Linked DNA regions of Homo sapiens: region 1 is linked to region 2. The links come from fine-mapping of genetic effects on plasma protein levels. A gene starts in region 2. The other region holds a variant in brackets. All regions are shown on one strand. Distances are from middle to middle. Region 1 holds the start of LNC-RHL1 (lncRNA regulator of hepatic lineages 1). Region 2 holds the start of APOA4 (apolipoprotein A4).

Evidence for each region. A credible set is the group of variants that fine-mapping cannot tell apart. PIP is the posterior inclusion probability: the model's chance that the variant is causal. Protein levels are from antibody-based Olink assays in UK Biobank. Linkage for the fine-mapping came from a reference panel and not from the study's own genotypes, which makes the PIPs less certain.
Region 1: its variant is the best candidate, but not a certain one, in a credible set for the plasma level of the APOA4 protein (UK Biobank, PIP 0.68).

What each region holds. Positions count from the first base shown.
Region 1 is chr11:116,798,120-116,815,291 of GRCh38, reverse strand. It overlaps LNC-RHL1 (lncRNA regulator of hepatic lineages 1), which reads left to right and starts at 1,110. Exons shown (of 2, transcript XR_007062898.1): 1 at 1,110-1,376; 2 at 1,839-2,383. The variant G/C (reference allele first, on the strand shown) is at 8,638.
Region 2 is chr11:116,822,939-116,829,568 of GRCh38, reverse strand. It overlaps APOA4 (apolipoprotein A4), which reads left to right and starts at 6,265. Exons shown (of 3, transcript NM_000482.4): 1 at 6,265-6,426. The coding sequence starts at 6,378. RefSeq lists enhancers at 1-142, 3,762-4,056, 3,911-4,277.

The DNA of each region.
Region 1 (17,172 bases), 20 kb after region 2:
GTGTGGTGGCTCACACCTGTAATCCCAGCACTTTGGGAGGCTGAGACAGGTGGATTGCTTGAGCCTAGGAGTTCGAGACCAGCCTGGCAACATGGCGAAAACTTGTCTCTACAAAAAATACAAAAATTAGCCAAGTGTGGTGGTGCACACCTGTGGTCCAAGCTACTCGAGAGACTGAGGTGGGAGGATTGCTTGAGCCCAGGAGGTTGAGGCTGGGGTGAGTTGAGATCATGCCACTGCAGTCCAGCCTGGGCAACAGAGGAAGACCCTGTCTCAAGAAAAAAAAAAAAAAGAAGAAGAAGAAAAGAAAAAAATGCCACCACTTTAGTATTACTTTTATAACATAAAATTTACCATTTAAACTATTTATAGGTGTTCAAGTCAGTGGCATTAATTACATTTACAATGTTGTGCAACCACCGCCACCACTATTTCTGAAAATCTTTTCATCACCCCAAACAGAAAACTCTATCCATTAAGCAATTGTGAAAACTGCCGCTATGAATGGGGGTGTACACATATCTTTCCAGTCCTTGCTCTCAATTCTTCTGAGCAAATATCCAGAAGTGGAATTGCTGGGTCACACGGTAATTCTATATTTAAATTTTGGAGGAACCGCCAAACTGTTTTTTTATAGTAGTGGCACCATTTCACATTCCCACTGGTGACGCCCAGGGTTCCAATTTCTTCACAGCCTCTCCAACGCTTGTTGTTTTCTGTTATTTTTTGGTTTTGTTTTATTTTGTTTTTAACAATAGTCATCCTGAGAGTAGTACTTTTAAAACCAGAAATAAGTAAGAAAAGAAATATTCCCCAGAGCTTCTCCAGGCTACAGTCTATGCCACCAGGAAAGACTGAATCATTGAGACCCATAGGAGAGCGTGTGCTGGGAGGTCCCTGTGGGCACCAGGGAGGTGTGTTTGAACTCCAGCCCAGCCCACATTAGCTTACCCAACAGTCCCTCAGAGCCAGCACAATTTCAGGCCATTATCTCCCTGGTCACCACTGGCTCCTCAGGTGACTTGGAAGTAGATGACTCCTCTGTGGGCCTGGGTTAGTGCCTCAAAGGCATGCTGACCAGCACTGGTTTGGGCCAGGCTGAGATGCTAGCCACACTCCTATGCCCATCCCCAAGTTCAAAGGTCAGAAGTCCTCTGAGAACATCCAGGGTCACTACCCCTGAGGTCTCTGGTGTACTACGTGGCCCTGATTAGGGCAAAGGGAAGTGATCTGAGGGCCACTCTCTTCCTGTACATACAGGGCCTTGCTGCTCTTGAGGGATTGTCCTGGCAGGATCAAAAGCAGCTCCTGCATGGGGACGCCGTGTCCTCCTGCTGTTATCATAGTATGCCCTGTGCTCCCAGGAGGAGGCTGAGGTATGTCCTGGGGACAGAAACAACAAGCTTAGGGTTATTTGGGCACTCCCTTGTCTCCTGTCTGAGAGCGTGCAGGGTGGAGTCATGCTATCTTGCTGTGTGATGACAAGTAGCTGACAATGCAGGGGCACAATAAAAACCCCCGAATGGCCCACATCTGAGGAGCGAGGGTTTGGTGAGCTGCTGGTTCTGAGATAATGGATTGGTGATATGGGAACAAAAGACCTAGGACCTGGAATCATAAGATCACAGGGCATTAGGGTTGGAGGGAACAACCTTGTCTCTCAGCCCTAATTCCTTTGATATCATTTAAGGAATGATCTTAACTCTAGGCTAACAGCCCTCGAGCTCAGGCACACCATTTGTTTGTTCATCATTGTATTTGCAGGATGTGGTAGCTAGCCCTCACAATGGTGGCTGATGTGTGATCAATAGGCTATGTCATGGTATTTCACTTCTAAGTCTAGATCATAAAGGGCATTGTGGCACCTACCTTGATTTCTCTTGGATCACTCATTCTGAGGGAAGATAGCTGCCATGTTGGGAGGACGTGCAAGCAGCCCTGTGAAGAGGTCAACACAGGGGGGAACTGAAGCCCCTTCCAAACAGCTAGCACCAACTTGCCAGCCATGTAAAGTGATTCACCTTGGAAACAGATCCTCCAGCCTCAGCCAAGCCTTCAGATGCAACCTCATGACAGACTCTGAACCAGAAACACACAGCCAAGCTGCTGACCCACAGACTTTGTGAGAGATCATAAACATTTACTGTTGTTCTAAGACACTGTTTTAGGGTGCTTTGTTGTACAACAATAGCTTACTGAAAATACAGAGAGCCTAGCACAGTGCCTGCATGTGGTCATCACTCAATGGTTGAGCGAGTGAATCTTGCTTAGTATTGAACACTCCCACTGACAGCTAACTGTACCATCTCTCAAAACAATTCATTCTATCTTTGGGCAATTCTGTTAAAGATTATTAGAATTAAATTGGATCTTTCTCAATACAGCTTCCACATCTTGGTCTTATTTTTACTGCTCTTTCAAAAATCATTAAACTGGAATCTTTCTTAACATAGCTTCTACACTTTGATCTTACTTTTTTTCTCTTTCGAACCATAGAATAATTATTCCTTTATACATGCATTCTACGTACAGGAAATCTTCCCACAGACTCATTCATGGAACCCCAAACCATATGGAGAAAATTGAGCCAGAGATGTGTTATACTTCACAGCTGCCTTGGGTTGAAGAATCTTGGCTGGTTTCTGAAAGGGCAGAAGTCTTGTCTATGTTTATTCTTGAACAGTCAGTGCCTAGCATGATGACTAGAACTTAGTAGGTATTCAATAAATATTTGTTGACTGAATGAATTTAATAAATCTTTTTGTCTTGCTGAGTTGTATGAGATATATATATATTTTTATATTTATATGTATTTATATCTATATTTATATATAAATATATATATATCTCATACAACTCAGCAAGACAAAAAGATTTAAATATTTAATATATTTAAATATTTAATATATTTAATATATTTATATTATTTAAAATTATATTATTTAAAATATTTAATATATTTATATTAAATCCCAAAGTGCTGGGATTACAGGCGTGAGCCACTGCGCCCGGCGTGGATCCTCTCATTTTCTTATCTTTGTTCTTACTTCAATCTCTACATGCTCTCCCTTTCTGAACTATTTCTTTACTCTCTATTCAGTTTTTATTTCTACTATCTTTTTTTTAATTTCTAAGAGTTTTTGTTATTGTTATTCTGTGAAGGTCTTTTTATACTATCCTGTTCTTGTTTAATCAATGTAATCTTTTCATTCTCTGATGTTATTAATGGCATTTTTCAATGTTCTTCTTTCTGTATATTCTCAGTTTTCTCTAACTTCCTTTTTAAATATTTGTTTGTTTTGGGTCTCTATCTTTCATGTTAGAATCTTTCCTCAAATGACTGGTAATCCTTGGTTGCTTAAGTTTAAGAGTGGGAGATTTGGGCTGGGAGCGGTGGCTCACGCCTGTAATCCCAGCACTTTGGGAGGCCAAGGTGGGTGGATCACGAGGTCAGGAGATCGAGACCATCCTGGCTAACATGGTGAAACTCTGTCTCTACTAAATATGCAAAAAATTAGCCAGGCGTGGTGGCAGGTGCCTGTAGTCCCAGTTACTCAGGAGGCTGAGGCAGGAGAATGGCGTGAACCCGGGAGGCAGAGCTTGCAGTGAGCCGAGATCGCACCACTGCACTCCAGCCTGGGTGACAGAGCGAGACTCTGTCTCAAAAAGAAAAAAGAAAAGAATGGGAGATTTTAAAGGTGATTTGAAGCTCCAATACGTGCGTAGTACTTATTGACTATGAATGTCACTGCAGGGTGATCCACTGAGATGTTTAGCTGGGGAACCCCATTGTGAAAATCTTTGGGTCTTACCTCTTGAGCTGGACATATTCCCCTAAGAAATGTCTTTCACTCTTCTGCCTGGAGGGTAAAGGCCTGAATACAGTGTCCCTGGGGCCAAGTGGAAGAAGCAGGAGGGTGATTCAGCATTTCAGAGGGTATACTTTGATTTAATCCTCTTGCTAGTACAGGTCTCCTGCCCTCAACTCTGCCTGACGTTCAAGAGAATAAACTTCCAGTCTTCTACTAAGGTGAGACAGGGAAGCTAAAGCTCTAACTGCTCCTTAAATAGTTTCAACCAATCTTTCATGTTTTATGACAGCCTCCTCCGTCACCTCTACTTTCAGTAGAAACTGGTGTCCCAATTCAGGACAGTCATATATGGCTGTGCAAGCTGTGCACTGTATCATTCTGAGGCCACCTCCCTCACAGGGTAGACATGACAGATTTGTATATTTATCATGTCAAATTTCTGGCAGACGGCTGTAGAGTGTCTTGAGAAAGGGGAGGCTGTTTCTATTGCACACACAGGTGCAGCGTGGGCTGGCAGGAGCCCTACTATCATCTCTTCGCCTTTTGAGAATCCAGCGGTGTAAGTCAGGCTGGAACTCATCTTTTCTCACTGCCAGCTCATGACCAGCATTCCCAAGGCCGGCTAAATCAGTCACAACTGGTCCATTTGCTTTCTAACATCCAAAATTGTGCTGTGGTCTTTTCTTCCTTTTCCCGATCCCGTCTCTTTTTTTTTTTTTTTTTTTTTTGTTTTTTGAGACAGGGTCTCACTCTGTCGCCCAGGCTGGAGTTCAGTGGCACAATCAGGGCTCACGGCAGCTTCTACCTCCCAGGCTCAAGTGATCCTCACACCTCAGCCCCCTGAGTAGCTGGAACTACAGGTCTGCCATGCCTGGCTGATTTTTTGTATTTTTTCAGTAGAGACAGGGTTTCGCCATGTTGCCCAGGCTAGTCTCAAACTCCTGGACTCAAGCGATCTGCCCACCTTGGCCTCCCAAAGTGCTAGGATTACAGGCATAAGCCACAGTGCCTGGCTACATCTTTTCCCAAACATTTCTTCATTATAGTTTCAGGAGGATTTCAGGAAAAAAAAGTGAAATTAGATGCATGCATTCAATCTTCAATGTTTGTCTGGAAGTCTATACAAGTAGCATTGACAGAAGATTGCTGAAAGCTTTATGGTACATTCATTCCTTTGGAGTCTAAGCCATTGGTTCCAACCTCCCCAGGAAGTCTCCAGTGTTATGGAAAAGGGTTTGTGAACAGGAATGTACTTGGACAGAAAATGTTCTTCCCTTCAAAAATGTATCTTAAGGCCAGGTGAGGTGGCTCACGCCTGTAATCCCAGCACTTTGGGAGGCCGAGGCAGGCGATTGCCTGAGGTCAGGAGTTGGCGACCAGCCTGGCCAACATGGCGAAACTCTGTCTCTACTAAAAATACAAAATTAGCTGGGCTTGGTGGCTTGTGCCTGTATCCCAGCTACTTAAGAGGCTGAGGCAGGAGAATTGTTTGAACCTGGGAGGTGGAGGTTGCAGTAAGCCGAGATTGTGCCACTGCACTCTTGCCTGGGTGACAGAGCAAGACTCCGTCTCAAAAATAAATAAATAAATACACAAATAATAAGAAAAAAATTATCTTAAGAAAATGATCATGGAATGCATGCATTTAGCTATGTGGATGTTCATCACAGTGTTGTTTATAATAAAAAATTAAAACAAGCCAGGCACGGTGGCTCATGCCTGTAATTCCAGGACTTTGGGAGGCTGCGGTGGGCGGGTCACTTGAGGTCAGTAGTTCAAGAGCCTGGCAAACATGGTGAAACCCTGTCTCGCGTGTGACAGTCTCTACTAAAAATACAAAAATTAGCCAGGCATGGTGGTTCATGCCTGTAGTCCCAGCTATTCAGGAAGCTGAATCAGGAGAATGGCTTGAACCTCAGGAGGTGAAGGCTGCAGTGAGCCAAGATTGCACCACTGCACTCCAGCCTTGGTGACGGAATGAGACTCCATTTCAAGAAAAAATAAAAAATAAAAATAAAAGAAAGAAGGAAAAAAAATATGTAATTGACTGAATCCCTCTCTTCGCGGGTTTTCACGAAACCCAAAACCAATGGTGAAGATCTGGCAACCTTGTCATCTGTTAGTGCTTCTATGATTGTGCTCTTCATCGGGTCATGATTTTCTGCGATTATTTCTATTTTCCCCATCCTGTGGTCCTCTCTGCAAGCCCCTCTCTTTTATTACCATTTCAATTTTCATTTTCTGTAGCCTCAAATCTTTGGTGATGAAGAGGAGTACATATAAACAAAACCCAAACAAATAATAATGAAAATCTTTATCTGGAGTTGGCACACCATCACTATGTTGACTCAGAATGTGTTCGGTACATTTTGTGGCACTCAAGTCCACGTCACTGGTCCCACCCAGCTGTTGCACCACCGGCAGGCATTTTTGACACAAACATCTAGCAGTGGGGCATTTCTCGACCTGATGGATCATGGTCTGCGCAGGGTAAACAGGTTGTAGTGGCAAGCCTGAGGACCCGAGGACCTGCTGTCCTGGCTATCACTCAGAACTGGTTCTGCCTATGCAGGAGACAGGAGAAGAGGGAAACTGAGGGGGTTATGTTCGTGCTGAGACAAGGCATGGTGGGACAAGGAACGAGAGGTGATGACTTGGCAGCTGTGCCTCGGCTTGGCTGTTCTTTCCCTGGCTGGCCTTGAGTTACTGTTCTTGTACCCAGATCAGTTAACACATGGACCTGGTACCCCTATATTCCATCAGGCCTCTTTCTCCCAAATCCTAAACCCCCTGGGGTAAGGGGAAGAGCACCTGGCTTTTTACTTAGGACGGTGTTTTCTCCCAGTAGTTAAGTGTTGAGGCTCTTTGTGGTATGGGTCTGGTCTTAGGAGCAAAGTCCTCTCTTTGCTCCCAAGCAGGAGACAGTGTACTGAGCATGGACTTTGGAGTTAGATAGACCTGGAATTGGCCCAGGGCAAGACCTTGGGCAAGAATCTCTCTGAACTCCAGTTTCTCTGTAAATAAAATGAGGATAACAATTCCTACCTTAGAGTATTGACTTGAGCGTTACAGATAAGAAAGGTAAATACTGGGCACAAGGTAGGTCCATAGAGAGCTCATTGTCATTAAATCTTTTCAAACCCAACTGGGCCAGATTCTGGAAGGCAGAGAGCCTTGTGGGCGTGCCCAGGCTGCTTCCCACCCCAACGCGCTAGCCACACTGAGCCCTGCATCATTTCCCCAACCCACTAGATGAGGGTTTGTGTCTTATTCTCTCCAAGATGTGGCAGGGTGCCTGGCACACAATATGTGTCCCACCTCTCTGAGTCCCAACCAGGTTGGCCTCAGTGCCAATTGCTGCCTTCATCAGCTTTAGAGATGTGCGATGCATCATTGATCTCTCTTCTGAACCCGCCATGCCTCACACTTCTGTCAGCCCTGGTCATAGCCCAAAACATAAGGCTCTCTAGCAAGGTCACGGCCTCCCACCCCACTCTTCTTCCTGCATTGTTCTTTGCTTATTCTCTCTATCCAACATCCCGAGAACTATTCCCTCCCAGTTTTCCCACTGCCTCTGGAACACACTCCTCTGCATCTTCAGCCTTCCTAGGTGCCTCCTTCCACTTCCTGTCCTCAACTGGGCTTGGCCTTGGCTCAGGCTGCCCTGCTCCCTGGCTTCCCCTCGGTCCTCCTGCATGGAGGCTGCTGACTCTCAGGTGGGGATGCTGTTCTTTCCATATCAAGTTTGCTGACTTGTTCTTATATTTTTTTTCTGTGATTCCATCAGTTTGAGGAAATGGTATTAAAATCTCCTACCAAATTTGTCAAGTTCTCTTTGGGACTCAGTGGCTTTTTGCTTTACGTATTTTGAGACTATGTTGTCAGGTTCAGAATTGTTTTATCTTCCCAGTGAATTTATTCTTCTTCTTCTTTTTTCTTTTTTTTTGAGACAGAGTCTTATTCTGTCACCCAGGCTGGAGTGCAGTGGTGCGATCTCAGTTCACTGCAACCTCTGCCTCCCCGGTTCAAATGATTTTCCTGCCTCAGCCTCCTGAGTAGCTGGGACTACAGGCATGCACCACCACACCCGGATAATTTTTTGTATTTTTAGTAGAGACAGGGTTTCACCACTTTGGTCAGGCTGGTCTCAAACTCCTGACCTTGTGATCCATCCCCCTGCCCCGGCCTCCCAAAGCGCTGGGATTACAGGTGTGAGCCACCACGCCCAGCCAAATTTCTTCTTTGATCATTAAATAATGATCTGCTTTATCCCTATCAATCCTATCTATCCCTATCAATCCAAATAAGCAAAGCTTATTTGTTCTGATGTTACATTGCATACCTGCTTTCTTTTGATTACTATTGGTCTGGTATGTCTTCTTAAATTCCTTCCCTGGCTCCACTTTTTAACCTTTCTCTGACATTATATTTTAGGTATGCCTCTTATAAATTGCAAATAAGTAGAGTTTTTATAAAATCCAATCTGAAAACAACAACAATAGTAAACTGATGTAGCACCTACTGTGTCAAGCATGTTTGTGTGCTTTTTAACCTACAGTAATAAAGCATTATTTCCCACAAGCCCTATGAGGCAAGTATTATCATTATTCCCCTTTTACAGAGTTTGAGGCTGGGTGCAGTGGCTCATGCCTGTAATCCCAGCACTTTGGGAGGCCAAGGCGGGAGGATCACTTGAGCTCAGGAGTCTGAGACCAGCCTAGGCAATATAGTGAGACCCAATCGCTACAAAAAATTTAAAAATTAGCTTGGCAGGGTGGCACATGTCTGTGTTCCCAGGGACTCAGGAGACTGAGGTGAGAGGATC[G/C]CGTGGGCCCAGGAGGTGGAGGCTGCAGTAAGTTGTGATTGGTGATTGCACCACTGCACCCAGCCTGAGTGACAGAGTGAGACTCTGTCTCAAAAAAAAAAACGAAAGAAAGAAAACAAAAGAAAGAAATGGAATCACAGAGAAGTTAATTTGCCAAAGGTCACAGAACCAATAAGTGGCAGGACTTCGACCCAGCGGACTAGTCCCAGAGACAATGCCTTGTGGGCTCACTTAATCTATTTAATTTGATAGTGATTACTGTTTTATTTATGTCATATTATTTTGTATTTTCATTTTACTATGATATTTCTTTGCTTCTTGTATCTTCCTGCTTGCTTCTCTGTTGGTTTTGTGTTCCTTTAAAGACTAATTTCACACCTTTTAAAAAATTCAGTTAAAAAGTTCAAACTGCACATAAAGAGTCAAACAGAGCCAGGTGTGGTGACTTATGTCTGTAACCCCAGCACTTTGGGAGGTCGAGACAGGGGGATCACTTGAGGCCAGGGGTTTGAGAGCAGCCCGGGCTACATAGCAAGGCTTCATCTCTCCAAAAAATTGTTTTTTAAAAAAGAGTCAAACAGATCTACAAGTTAGTTTAAAATAGCAGCAGTATCTCAACCCCCACCTCTATTTTTCACTCTACAAAAACAACTACTGTCAACTGTTTTTTTGTTTCGTTTTGTTTTGTTTTTTTTTGAGACAGAGTCTCACTCTGTCACCCAGCCTGGAGTGCAGTGGTACAATCTTAGCTCACTGCAACCTCTGCCTCTCAGGTTCAAGCGATTCTTCTGCCTCAGCCTCCCATGTAGCTAGGATTACAGGCATGTGCCACCATGCCCGGCTAATTTTTGTATTTTAAGTAGAGACAGGGTTTTACCATGTTGGCCAGGTTGGTCTCGAACTCCTGACCTCAGGTGATCCACCCTCCTCGGCCTCCCAAAGTGCTAGGATTATAGGCCACCGTGCCCGTCTGACATTGCCTCTTTAGAAAGAAGTGCAGTTCATCTTCACTGATGAGGGAGCTTTTCTTCATAGAATAACATCAGCTGAAATATATAAAAGAAATAGTAGAATTAGAACATTCTCATTCTGCAACTCTTCTAATGTAATAATTAATTCAGGCAAAAATCTTGAATGTATGCTATGTTCATCAGGTTGCCAAGGTATTTTAAGATGCCAAAGTATCCCAATTCTGTTACTTGTTAATTACAAAGGGAAATAACCTATCTTTCCAACCAAGAGGTCTGCTAGTGACCACCTCACGAAGTGAAAAAACTAAGGATTGCTATTAGTGGGACAAGTAGCCATTGTGTACCTCCTGATATGACATCATGTGAACTTCTCACTTCACCTTTAAGTATTCTTAGCCAGGCACAGTGGCACATGCTTGAAATCCCAGCACTTTGGGAGGCTGAGGCAGGGGGATCGCTTGAGGCCAGGATTTCAAGACCAGCCTGAGCAACATGTCAAGACCCCCACCTCTACAAAAAATTAAAAAGTTAGCCAGGTGTGGTGGTCATGCCTGTAGCCCCAGCTACTTAGGAGGCTGAGGTGGGAGGATCACTTGAGCCCAGGAGTTTGAGGCTGCAGTGAGCTATGATCACACCACTGCACTCCAGCTGGATGACAGAGCAAGACCCTGTCTCAAAAAACAAAACAAAACAAAAAACACCGAAAAAACCCCACAGTAAATTAGAAGAAAGCTGCATAAATTAGAAGAAGCTGATGTGAAATCCTGAGTCCATGGTTCAATTTAGGAGGGACCATCTGGAGAGCAGGGAACCCCCAAAAGTCAGTTTCTTTAGGCCTATTTCCTTGGGCCAGCCAAATTTCTCAGGGAGAATGTTGTTCCATTTTCAATATGGGGAAAGATGGTGAACTGAGGAGTCTTTTAAAAAAATTTATTTTTGAGATGGGGTCTCATTCTGTCGCCCAGGCTAGAGAGCAGTAGCATGATCATGGCTCACTGCGGTCTCTAACTCGTGGGCTCAAGTAATCCTTCTGCCTCAGCCTCCTGAGTAGCTAGGACCACAGGTGCCACCATACCTGGCTAATTTTTGTATTCTTTGCAGAGACTGGGTCTCGCTACATTGCCCAGGCTGGTATCGAACTCCTGGGCTCAAGCGATCCTCCTGCCTTGCCTTCTCAAAGTGTTGGGATTACAGGCATGAGCCACTGTGCCCAGCCTCAAAATTTAATGTATAAAGTTTTCCTTAATTTTTCTTAGCACAAAAACCCTGGCCCCCAACAATACCTAGTTTTCTCCAGGCCGGAGTCCCACTCTTTTACCCTTTTCAGAGAGAATAAGCATCTGGTTTTCTGCTGCTTTGGGGGTACCCAGCCAAGTAGAGTTGAAGAGAACAGCTGCTTCTCAAACAGACTCTCGACCAACTGCCATATTTCTAGTCCCACTGCCACCCACTCTTCCAGAAGAATGTTGACACTAATGTCAGAGCATTTGGAGAGTTTAGTAGTGAAAATCAGGGGCCTTCTTGGCTTTCTCCACTGCTGCTTCAAAATTCATGTCAGGTGTGCCTGTCACCACCGTTTGATCATTTGGAAGCTTTCCAGCTTCCCAAATGTTGTTATTTTTGTCTCCTTTTCTATTTTCCCTTTGGGTTTATGCATTTTGTAAAAAGTGCACTTCAATGCCACGTTATTGAGATTTCAGAGAACAGCAGAGGCTAATGCATGCAATTAATCCACCGTCCGTTACTAGAAGTCAATCGGATGCTCTTTAGTCTCTCTTCCCCATATACTAGTTTAAAAGTTATCCATTCTTTCTATTCGTTTTATGGGTTATCCTTAAAATTTTAATATTCTTGTCTGACCTAACAAAGTCTATAGATAATCAATATCCCTATCTTCCTCCCGAATAATGCAAAGGCTGCTGAATGCTTTCACTTTGATCTCTCCTTTCCCATTTCCAGGTTGCTTCGGTCTGATATTTTAGTTCCTCATTACTTTTAACACCTCCTCCAAAGTAGTCCCTTCATCAATAGATGTTTTTGAGCCCTCCCTACCATGTGATAAGCACTGGTCTAGGCACTGGGAGTACAGTAGGAAATGAGATAAACTTGGCCAGGTGTAGGGTGGCTTACACCTGTAATCCCAACACTTTTGAGGCCGAGGCGGGCAGCTCGCTTGAGCCCATGAGTTCGAGACCAGCCTGGGAAACATAGCGAGACCCCCGTCCCTACAAAAAAATATAAAAATTAGCTGGGCATGGTGGTGTATGCCTGTGGTCCTAGCTACTCAGAAGACTGAGGTGGGAGGATCATCTGAGCCCAGGGTGGTCGAGGCTGCAGTGATTACACCACTGCACTCCATCCTGGGCAACGGTGAGACCCTGTCTCAAAAAACAAACAAACAAACAAGCAAACAAAACCCCCACAAACTAAACTATGTGTAAATACATTTTTGTTAGGTAGAACTATATGAAATTGCCACTATTTGACCAATTTTTAGTGAAAACTAGTCTCATAAGTGTGTGTGTGTGTATTTTCACTAATGTTTTTTGGATTTACCTAAACGTTTACTAATTTCATTGCTCCCCATGTCTCCTTCTATCCTATTCCTTTTTTCTGGGTTCTGTTTCCTTTTCAGATTTTTAGTAGTTCTTTTCAGTGAGGATCTGTGAGTGGTAAACTCTCTTTCTCTGAAATTAACTTCTTCCTCTCAAATAATAGTTCACCTGAGTATAAGTCTTGGTTGGCCATTAATTTCCTTTCAGTCTTTAGAAGGTACATTGATGATAAATCAGTTGCCGGTTTAATCATGCTTCGTGTGTAGATCATTAGTCTTTCTCTTTGGTTGATTTTAAGATATCCATTGCCTTCAGTGTTCTGCAGATTCCTGCGATGTGTCCTCATTTGGTTGTGTGTTAATTTTTCCTACCAAGACTCAGGATGCTTCCTGTACCTGAGGATTCCGGTCACATCTTGCTTCAATGTTTGAAATTTCTCAGCCATCATCTTTTGAATATTGCCTCTTCCACAGTCCCTGTGTTCTCTTCGTGGAAATCCTACAGGCATATATTGGACCTCCCATTCTGTCCTCCATGTCTCTTACCGTCTATTCATACCCTCCTTTTTATATTTAATTTTTTTGAGACAGAGTTTTGCTCTGTGGCCCAGGACGGAGTGCAATTGCATGATCTTGGCTCACGGCAAACTCTGCCTCCCAGGTTCAAGCTATTCTCCTGCCTCAGTCTCCCAAGTAGCTGGGATTACAGGCATGCACCACCACGCCCGGCTAATTTTTGTATTTTTAGTAGAGACGGGGTTTCACCATATTGGCCAGGCTGGTCTGAAACTCCTGACCTCAGGTGATCCACCCACCTCGGCCTCCCAAAGTGCTGGGATTATAGGCATGAGCCACCATGCCTGGCCAATATCACCCGCCTCGGCCTCCCAAAGTGCTGGGATTACAGGCATGAGCCACCGTGCCTGGTCAATATCCTCCTTTTTATTTCTGTGATTCTTTCTGTGTGATTTTCTCAGATCTACCTTCTAGCTTACTAATTCTCTCTCCAACTGTAGCTAAATGTGTTTTATATTATAATGACTATATTTTTTTCACTTATAGATGTTCTATTTAATTCTCTTTCTTTTTGACAAATAGAACTTATTTCAAAACAAACAAAAGGCCAGGCATGGTGGTTCATGCCTGTAATCCCAGTGCTTTGGGAGGCTGAGGCAGGAGGATTGCTTGAGCCCAGGAGTTCAAGGCCAGCCTGGGCAACATAGTGAGATCCTTTCTCTACCAAAAAAATAAAAAATCAGCTGGGTGTTGTGGGACACTCCTGTAGTCCCAGAAACTACAGATTCTTGGGAGGCAGAGGCTGGAGGATTGCTTGAGGCAGAGGCTGGAGGATTGCTTGAGCCTGGGAGGTTGAGGCTGCAGTGAACTGTGATCATGCCACTGCACTCTAGCCTGGGTGACAAAGTGAGATCCTGTCTCAAAAACAAATAAACAAACAAGCAAAGAAACAAAAAAATGCTTACACAGGTTACTACTTTCTTGCTGGGATAGTTTTAACACTGCGTTAAGCATAAACACCTTTCTTTCTGAAATGTATTTGAGATGTATATTGATTTTTAAAAAACCCACACCTCCATTAAGGTCTGGTGATAGCAGTAGAAACAATGTAGAGTGGCTCCACAATCATATAGATGTTTTTGGTGCGTTCTGAGATGGAGTCCAGGAACACCAAGTAAAGACTGCTACCTCACAGTTTACATCTGAGTTCTTAGAAGACAAGACTGAAGGAGAACAATTTGTAACAAGATTTACTTGGCCCGGGTGTGGTGGCTCACACCTGTAATCCCAGTACTTTGGGAGCTTTGGGAGTCCGAAGTGGGTGGATCACCTGAGGTCAGGAGTTCAAGACCAGCCTGGCCAACATGGAATAACCCCCATCTCTACTAAAAATACAAAAATTAGCCAGGCACGGTGGCACACGCCTGTAATCCCAGCTACTCAGGAGGCTGAGGCAGGAGAATCGCTTGAACCCAAGTGACTGGGTTGCCGAGAGCCGAGATCACAGCACTGTACTCCAGCCACCCTGGGTGACAGAGTGAGACTCTGCCAAAAAAAAAAAAAAAAAAAAAAAAATACTTACTGTTCAGAAGGAGAAGTCATAATGTTGCTTTAAAGAACAGGTCACAAAAGAAAGACTCTAGAAGATCTTCTCACTTGGTGCATATCAAGTGTCTATTTGAGACCCATACACTTGCTTAATCCATGTGTTTAAGGCAAAAGTGCTGCTGCTGAGCAGTAAGGAATAAGGTACCTGCTAACCTTTACCAATCTACATTTTAAAATCCTTCTTACTACACATCCAGAATGAGTCAGCAATTCTTGTGTATTAAAAAACAAAAACACAAAACAAAATAGAGGGGCAACTCTCTTAAAAATGCAGCTATCCGCAAACACTGTGATACAAAACGACAGTCAAGGAAAGGGCAGCACAAACAAGTTCACCTGGAAGGAATCTGTTCAAAGTCTCTGGATTTAAGAACAAGTTCCCTAAAAGCTCTTACTTACAGAAGAAATCGGATAATAAATGTAGCTGGAATGATGGAATTCTTTAAGTTTTCATTTTGTTTTGGGCAACTCTGTGGCCCAGGCTGGAGTGCAGTGGCTTGATCACGGCTCACTGCAGCCTCAACCTCCCAGGCTCTGGTGATCCTCCCACCTCAGCCTCCTGAGTGGCTGGGACTACAAGCATGTGTGCCACCATGCTAGGCTAATTTTTGTATTTTATTTTTAGTTTTTTTTTTTTTTTTTTTTTTTTTTTTGTAGAGACAGGTTTTGCCATGTTGCCAAGGCTGGTCTCAAATTCCTGGGTTCAAGTGATCCTCTCATCTCAGCCTTCCAAAGAGCTGGGATTACAGGCATGAGCTACTGCACCTGGCCTAGAATTTTTTAAAAATCACTATCTGGCAACTCTCAGGATAATATTCGATTCAGGCAAGGATCATCAATGAATGCTAAAACCATTGGGTGAAAAATTGTTGCAGAATGGGATGCTCACATGGCTTCAAAGTATTGCTCCACAAATTACTTATCAATAACGTAAAAAACCAAACTTTACTAGCCATGGAGAAATCTGGTTGTTATCACTTTAACGGAGTGATCAAACTTAACATCACTAAATAGAGTGCAACCTCCAGCTAGGATACAGTAAGAATGGCCAGATATCACCTAGTATTTTTGCCAAAAATGTTTAACCTTAATCTAATCATGAGAAAGTAATCACTCAAATCCAGAATGTGGGACATTTTACAAGATGTCCTCCTTGCACTCTTCCAAAAAAAAATCAATGTCATGAAAACAAACAAATGGTGGGGTTGGGGAGAACGGTTCTAAATTTAAAAACTAAAGTGGGATAACAACCAGATGAGATGTGTTAGAGCTTGAATTTACAGAGAGAGAAAAACAACTATGAAAGCATTTTGGGGAAAATCTGAATATGTAGGATATGTTAGATGATATTAAGGAATTGTGTTAATTTTCAAAGGTATGATAATGTTTTTTTCTTTTGTAAAAGAGTCCTTATTTTTCACAATGTATGTTGAAGTATTCAGAGTGAAGTGTCATGTTGGCTATAATTATTTCAAATGGTTCCACACACAAAGCACATACCACATACACATATACATATACCTCCAACCAACTCAAAACATGTTCAACACTGAAACTATAAGATGCCACCAAACAGGGAAGCATGAGTGTGTGTTGCATCTACCCATTGTATCAATCCAGGTTCAGTCAGAAAAACAAAAGCCATTCCACGTATTTCAAGTATGAAAGGCTTTAAAACAAAAAATTAAAGGTTTATCCAACTCTTGGAAGGGCTGGAGGAGTGACCACCTTGGTTTGCAGTTCAGAAGGAGTGACTCTCAAACGCTCATTAGTAAGTGGCTACAAATGGGAAGCTCGCCTTATTATGCCTGCAATATCAATGCATGTGATTCCTGGGAAGGTCACCCAGAAGCTGCTTTAAACTCCAAGCCTGTCCATGCTTCTGTCTGCAACCGGCATTGAAACATAATGGCCTCTCCTCTTCCGTCTCACGCTGGCTGACTCTAACCTAGGCTCATATAGAGAAGGGATTCTAGAAAATGTATTAATAGTTCCAAGTGTCCCCTCTGCATCTCATAAAAGACCTTAGAAAGGGCACTGATAATGCTATTTGCAAAAAGACAATCCAGCGCAGTTGTATTTTACAGCACAGGCTCTTTAAGTTTGGGTTATCAGCAAAAAACCATTAGAGTATGAGAAATTCCTTTTTAAATTGTGGCAAAATATACATAACATAAAAATTACCATTGTAGCTATTGTACATTGTAGCTAAGTATATAGCCCAGTAGCACTAAATACATTTACACTGTTGTGCACCACTATCTAGCTCCAGAAACTTTTAATCTTCCCAAACAGAAACTTGTACCTATTAACCAATACCTTCTCCTTCCTCACTTCTCCTAGAAACCAGAATTATACTTTCTGTCTCTACAAATCTGACTATTCTGGATACCTCAGAATCACAGTATGTGTCGTTCTACGACTGGCTTGTTTCACTTAGCATCATGTCTTCAAGGGTCATCCACGTTATAGCATGTGTCAGATTTCCTTTTCTTTTCTTTTCTTTTTTTTTTTTTTTGAGACACAGTCTCGCTCTGTCACCCAGGCTGGAGGGCAGTAGCACAATCTCAGTTCACTGCAGCCTCTGCCTTCCAGGTTCAAGCAATTCTCGTGCCTCAGCCTCCCAAGTAGCTGGAATGACAGGCATGCACCACCACACCTGGCTAATTTTTGTATTTTTAGTAGAGACGGGGTTTTACCATATTGGCCAGGCTGGTCTTGCACTTCCGGCCTCAAGTGATCTGCCCGTCTCGGCCTCCCAAAGTGCTGGGATTACAGGCGTGAGCCACTATGCCTGGCCCCCGATTGTCATTATTTAAGGCTAAGTGATATTTTGTTGTCTGTATATACCACATTTTGTTTATTCATTCATCTGTCAATGGACAT
Region 2 (6,630 bases):
ACACTGGAATTTCAGGCCCCTCCCTCCACCAGCCCCAAGCCCTGAACACAGCCTGGAGTAGAGGGGTGAGGGGCTTCTTCAGACTTGAGAACAAGTGGGTGGCTTGGGCTGGGGGGTGTTTGGAGTAAAGGCACAGAAGACCAGGCATCAGTGGCTCCGGCAAGGCCTGGTTACAGGGCTGAGCTCTCACAGCCCCTCCCAGCACCTCCATCTCTGGGTTTCAATCCAGGCAGGCGAGTGCTGCTCACCCAGCAGCCCCCCACCCGCCCCCACCCTGTGTGCCCCCCGCTGCCTCCCCCTTAGTGTAGGGCAGGGGTTGGTGGAGAAGGGCCAAGGCCGCTCAGAGCCCGAGGCCTTTGCCCCTCCCTCCACCAGGCTCCCTATTTTGCCCTCTGGACCCACTGATAACATCCCCTGGGGGAGGAGCTGGTCTCATGTCTGGGGCCCTCCCCAGCCCCCACCAGGACTGATTCTCTCGTTCACCTTCCTGGGTTCCTCAGTGGGGCTGGGGGAAGAGCAGCCCTCACTGCCCCCTGGCTGTGGGAGCAACTGGGAGGAACAAGGTCTGGTGAGGAGAGGGCACAGAGGAGTTCTGCGGGGAGTCGGTGGTCCAGGAGGGGCCGCTGACCCTTCTCGGGGCTGAGATGTCCCCTGGGCCCACAGTGAAGCCGCAGCAGGGATGGCAGGATGAGGGCGCCTGTCTTCCAGATGCTGACACCTTGGAGCCAGGACATCTTAGGCTTAAATGATGCCTTTGGCACGTAATAGGACCCAGGTCACAGAGATAACATCTCAGAGCCTCAATTTTCTGAGGATAAAATGGGGCTGGAATACTGATTGCCCAGAGTGGTGCTGAAAAGGAAATGAGATAGAGAAGTACAAAGCAGCGGGTCCATGGAGGGACTCACACCTCCCTCTCCCTCCTAACGCTGTGCCCTTCCCAGACAGCAGAGTCTGCAGGCAGAAGGAGCCTCTAACATAAAAAATAGAGCTCTGGCAGCAAGCTGTCCTCTCAGAAGTAACTAACACCACAGTATGAAATCAGAGGCCTGAGAAAGTGGCCCGGCTCTGCCCTCAGAATTCTTTATCGGTGGGTGAGACTTGGAATTCCTCTATTAGCGATCCATTCCTGGCTGGGCACAGTGGCTCATGCCTGTAATCCCAGCACTTTGGGAGGCTGGGACGGACGGATATCTGAGGCCAGGAGTTCGAGACCAGCCTGGGCAACATGGCGAAACCCAGTCTCTACTAAAAATACAAAAAATTAGCCGAGCATGGTGATGCACGCCTGTAGTCCCAGCTACTCAGGAGGCTGAGGCACGAGAATTGCTTGAACCCCGGAGGTGGAGGTTGCAGTGAGCAGAGATCGCACCATTGCACTCCAGTGACAGAGCTAGACTTGGTCTAAAAAAGAGAGAGAGAGAGAGAGAGAGAGATTCATTCCTTTGACTTAAGACTTTGTTTTCTGTTAAAATGCAAATAGAACCCTGTGAAGTAGACGTTAAGTCCATTTTATAGGTTAGAAACCTAAGGCTCTAAGGGCTCCAAGTGCACAGCCCATTAGTAGTAAGGCTGGGAACCTTAATCCAGGTCTTCACACACCCCAGGCAAATACCAGACGGCTTAGAGCACTGAGACCCCTATAGAGGCATCAGTCACACGCCCAGAACAAACCTGTCTCAAGTCTCCTGCAGACTTTGGTGGTGGGGTAGAAGGTGAAGAAGTGGTCACTGGAGGATTTGGTATTGGGGATGCCCTTTCCTCTTCTGCTGCGGCCTGCTCCATAGCCCCAGAGGCAAAGGCACAGTGGGGACCCAGATCCAGGCAGGGGCAGGCAACAAGGTCTATGGGCCCGGGTGTGCTAGAATGGGCTGGCGGGGTCCCGTGGCCCCAGACCCTCCAAGCCTTTCCATCTCTGCAGAGGGTCTGGAGGAGCCTGGCCTCTCTCTCCCGCATGGCAACGGACCCAGGGAGGTCAGGACATGTGGGTAGAGAGACCTGGCAGGGTGCTGAGCTAGATGTAGCACACCTCCAGGAAGCCTGGTACCTTGTCTCCTTCCAAGGGCTTGGTACCTGAGAATACCTGTGGCCCCTCACCAACAGTCCAACCTGCACCCCGGCAGGGGATCTCTTGGTGGCCAGCCTGCGCTGCCCCTCTCTCCCATCATGGCTCCCCTGGGATGAAGACTGCTCCAGGGAGAAGCCAGTGGTAGATGGGAGGAAGAGGGGATTTGACCATCCGGGGCCAAAAATGGTCCTCTGGGGTTGGGCTGTTTCACCTTGTGTCCAGGTGAGGTTTAGTACATGAGCCCCCATGCTCCATGCCCTTCCCACCAGGCTGGGCTGGGCAGCCCTGATTCAGACCTGTTGGCCAGAGGCCCTTGTTCATCACACATCATCATGCCGGAAGTTCCTCCTAGTATCTCACCCAGCTCCCTCCTATGGCAACAGGAGCTGTCCTTCAGTTCTGCCCGGGGGAGGGCCCCTTGAAGCATACGTGAGGCACATGTCCGTGTGACCTGCCTGTCCCTGGCTGGATCTGAGTTGTCTGCTCCTGACTCTGACCTCTGGACTGACCCCTGGTTTGATCCCTGTGTGGTTGGCCAGGAGGGGTGGCTGTAGCTAATGCTGAGCTATCAGCCTCATTGCCTCACCAATCATTAAGTCTGCCTGTTGCACAGATAAGGAGAGGCTTGGAGAGGCGATGTCTCCCTCGAGATCACACAGGCCTTTCATGCCCACTAAGATGGACGTCCCTGACTCACAGGACCAGGCCTGGCTGGAAGGCAGTCTGCTCTTCCCATCAGCTACTTGCACCCTCTAAGACTGAGCACAGGGGGCTCTCATTCTCTCCCTGCTCCCCAAAACAAATCCATCTACAGATTGATGCAAAACGTACCCTCAGACTTTGGGAAGTAAATACATTCATTAACAGGTCACGTCCCCGCCACGTTGAAAGGCAGCAGGTCCCCTCGCGAGCGTGGGTGCACGCATGGGCTGTGCCAGTCCCTTGGTTCTTAGTGATTTGCACACTTCTGTGAATCCACACACACTCTGGTGGATGCTCTCGGACATGCTCAAATGGTGCAGGCGCTCCCAGCATGGGTGCACCCAGGCGGGCGGGTGAGACAGAAGCGCCTCTGGACCTCTCACATGCTAGTGGCACCGGCTGCTAGGACTGTAAGTCCTGGAGGTCAAACTGCGGCTGAGGTGTCATTCGTGACTCAGTCTCCTCCTCCCCTCTGGCCTGGGGAAGGGACAGGGGCACTGAGTACTGACCTTTGCTCCCGCTGCAAGCTGGACTGTGCCTGATTCAGGAGCAGGGTTGGGACCGATGGGTTCCAGGGAGGTGAGCCTTGCAGGAGTAAGACGTGGCTAACATTTAGTGATCACTTTTCCTATGTGCCAGACATTGTTGCAAGCACTATAAGATCATCTCAGTGAATCCTCACAGCCTAGGAGGCAGGTACAATGGTTATGTCTCACCAAGGTAACTGAGGCTCAGAGAGGTTATGAGACTTGCCCAAGGACACACAGGCAGTACGTGTTGGAGCCTGGATGCCAAGCCAGGGAGTGGACTCCAGCATCTGACCCCAACAATCACGGAGAGATGGCACAGGCTGCATCAAAAAGGAGGCAGCATGGTAGCGTGGGGACCACTACAGGGCAGTGGGGACCCAGCAGAAGGGGTGCCAGAGTCAGGAGGTCATTTGACTGCCTTTGACCCTAGGAAACATTAAGCCACTTCTGGAAACTGAAAAAATGAACACAAAGCAAATTAGAGTTAGTACAATTGTGGTCTACTCTGATGGCGTTCATTTTTACAAATAAATGTAGCTCACTGTTGTCAGGCACTGCACTCACCGACAGGAGCCAATAGTGCAACGTGCCTGGATGTCACCTCATAGTCACTAGGAGTGGTGTGGTCCGGCAGAGGGACCCATGCTGACGTGGTGTGTCACCTTCTCAGTGGATGTTTGTGTGTGATTATGCATGCAGCCTCATTTAGAGATCCAATAGACATCTAAGTAGAAGACCTCCTGGGCACCACCACCATTGCCCTCCATCCCCCAATGGGAGGTCCCCTGAGAGCCTCAGGTCCCAAGATTCTGCTCAAGCCAGCTGCTCCTGCCCAGGGAGTGTGGCTGGGGGGCAAGAAGGGCAGGAGTCAGGCCTCAGGCTGGTCCCACCCATCACCCTGCCTCTGGCCCACCTGGCGCCCCTCAGAGGGCTGAGTCTCACTCTGCCACTCTCACTAGAGGAGGGAGCACTCTGCTACCCTCCCTGCTTTGCTCCAAATCAGGAACACAGTATGATTATTATACAGTATGATTATTATAATAACAGCAACTATTTTTCAGAGCTTACTCTGTGCCAGGAGCTCTATAGGCAGCCCTCTGTATCCTTGGTTTCTGTGTCCATGGATTCAACCAACCTTGGATTGAAAATAATTTTTTAGGCCGGGCGTGGTGGCTCACGCCTGTAATCTCAGCACTTTGGGAGGTTGAGGCGGGCGGATCACGAGGTCAGGAGATCGAGACCATCCTGGCTAACACGGCGAAACCCCATCTCTACTAAAAATACAAAAAAAAAAAAAAAAATTAGCCGGGCGTGGTGGCGGGCGCCTATGGTCCCAGCTACTTGGGAGGCTGAGGCAGGAGAATGGCGTGAACCCGGGAGGCAGAGCTTGCAGTGAGCCGAGATCGTGCCACTGCACTCCAGCCTGGGTGACAGAGCAAGACTCCATCTCAAAAAAAAAAAAAAAAAAAAAAATATATATATATATATATATATATTTTTTTTTTTAAATTGCATCTGTGGGCCGGGTGCAGTGGCTCATGCCTGTAAGCCCAGCATTTTAGGAGGCAGAGATTGGAGGATCACTTAAGGCCAGGAGTTGGAGACCAGCCTGAGCAACATAGCGACACCCCATCTCCATTAAAAACAATGTTTTAAAAAAATTGCATCTGGGCAGGGCGCAGTGGCTCACGCCTATAAGCCCAGCACTTTGGGAGGCCCACATGGGAGGATTGCTTGAGGCCAGGAGTTGGAGACCAGCCTGAGCAACATGGTGAAACCCCGTCTCTGCTGTAAATACACAAATTAGCTGGGCGTGGTGGTGGGTGCCTGTAATCCCAGCTACTCAGGAGGCTGAGGCAGGAGAATCACTTGAACCTGGGGGGCAGAGATTGCAGTGAGCTAAGATCGTGCCACTGCACTCCAGCCTGGGTGACAGAGTAAGACTCCATCTCAAAAAAAAAAAAAATTGCACCTGTACTAAACATATACAGACTTTTTTGGTGATTACCTCCTAAACAATACAGTATAACAACCATTCACACAGCATTTCCGTCGTATTAGGTATTATAAGTAATCTAGAGATTTAAAGTATGTGGGAGGCTGTGCTTAGGTTATATGCAAATACTATGCCATTTTATATCAAGGACTTGAACATCCATGGATTTTGGTATCTGCAGAGGGTCCTGGAATCAATTTCCCATGGAGACTGAGAGATGACCGTACTACCCACTTCGCAAGCAATGTCTTCTTTAATGTACTGAACCATCCCATTGTTCAGAGGAGAAACTGAAGCTCAGGGCTTTGAATAACTAGACCAAGGAGGCACAGCATGGGAGTGGGACATGAAGCACTCTACAATTAACCCTTTCAGGACAAGGCCCTGTCTCCCACACCCATCTGCCCAAAGGCTCTCCAGGGCCCCCTCCTCTTGGGTGTACCTTGACAAGAGACCTAGATTTTAGCTCACTATGCTGTCTGCAGTCCTGGATGGTCCCACTCCAGTGTCTGGTGCTCTGAGATGGAGTCAGCATTAGTGGCGGATGTGGAGACTGGGGGGACCTGTCTTCACTGGGGTAGACAGAGGAGATGTGGACTTTGCCCCCCATGAGCCCGGCACAAACCCAGAGCCGCCAGCAGGGCCTCGAGGCATCAGTCCCGGGCTCATGGGCTCCCTGAGGTGTTTCTCCTACTGTTTTCCGTTCCCCTCCTCCCTTCCATGCTGAGGTTGGTGGGGTGGGGGTGGGGGTGCCCACGCACGGAACAGCCACCACTTCTAACTATCGCCTGAGCCCTGATCTGCTGTCAGCTTCCACGTAGTCTCAGGGTCACAAAAGTCCAAGAGGCCTCTTGGGAATGTGTCACCTTCCAGCGTGGAGTCACACTGAGGAAGGAGGAGGGGAGGGCAGCCAGGGGGGTGGCGATAGGGAGAGAGTTTAAATGTCTGGCTGGCTCTGAGCTTCAGTCAGTTCCCACTGCAGCGCAGGTGAGCTCTCCTGAGGACCTCTCTGTCAGCTCCCCTGATTGTAGGGAGGATCCAGTGTGGCAAGAAACTCCTCCAGCCCAGCAAGCAGCTCAGGATGTTCCTGAAGGCCGTGGTCCTGACCCTGGCCCTGGTGGCTGTCGCCGGTGAGTAGAAGCTGTCTTTGGATGGCACTCCTGGGCTGCTGCTCTGAGTAGTGCAGGATGGAGGCTGAGCCAAAGCAAAAGGACACTTCTGAGTGCCCATCAGCCCCCAGCTGGACATGAGGTCTGCCTGGCTGCCAAGTGGCTCACAGGAGAGCTGGCCCAGTCCCAGTGGTGGGCCCATTGGCATTGGTGCTATACCAGTTT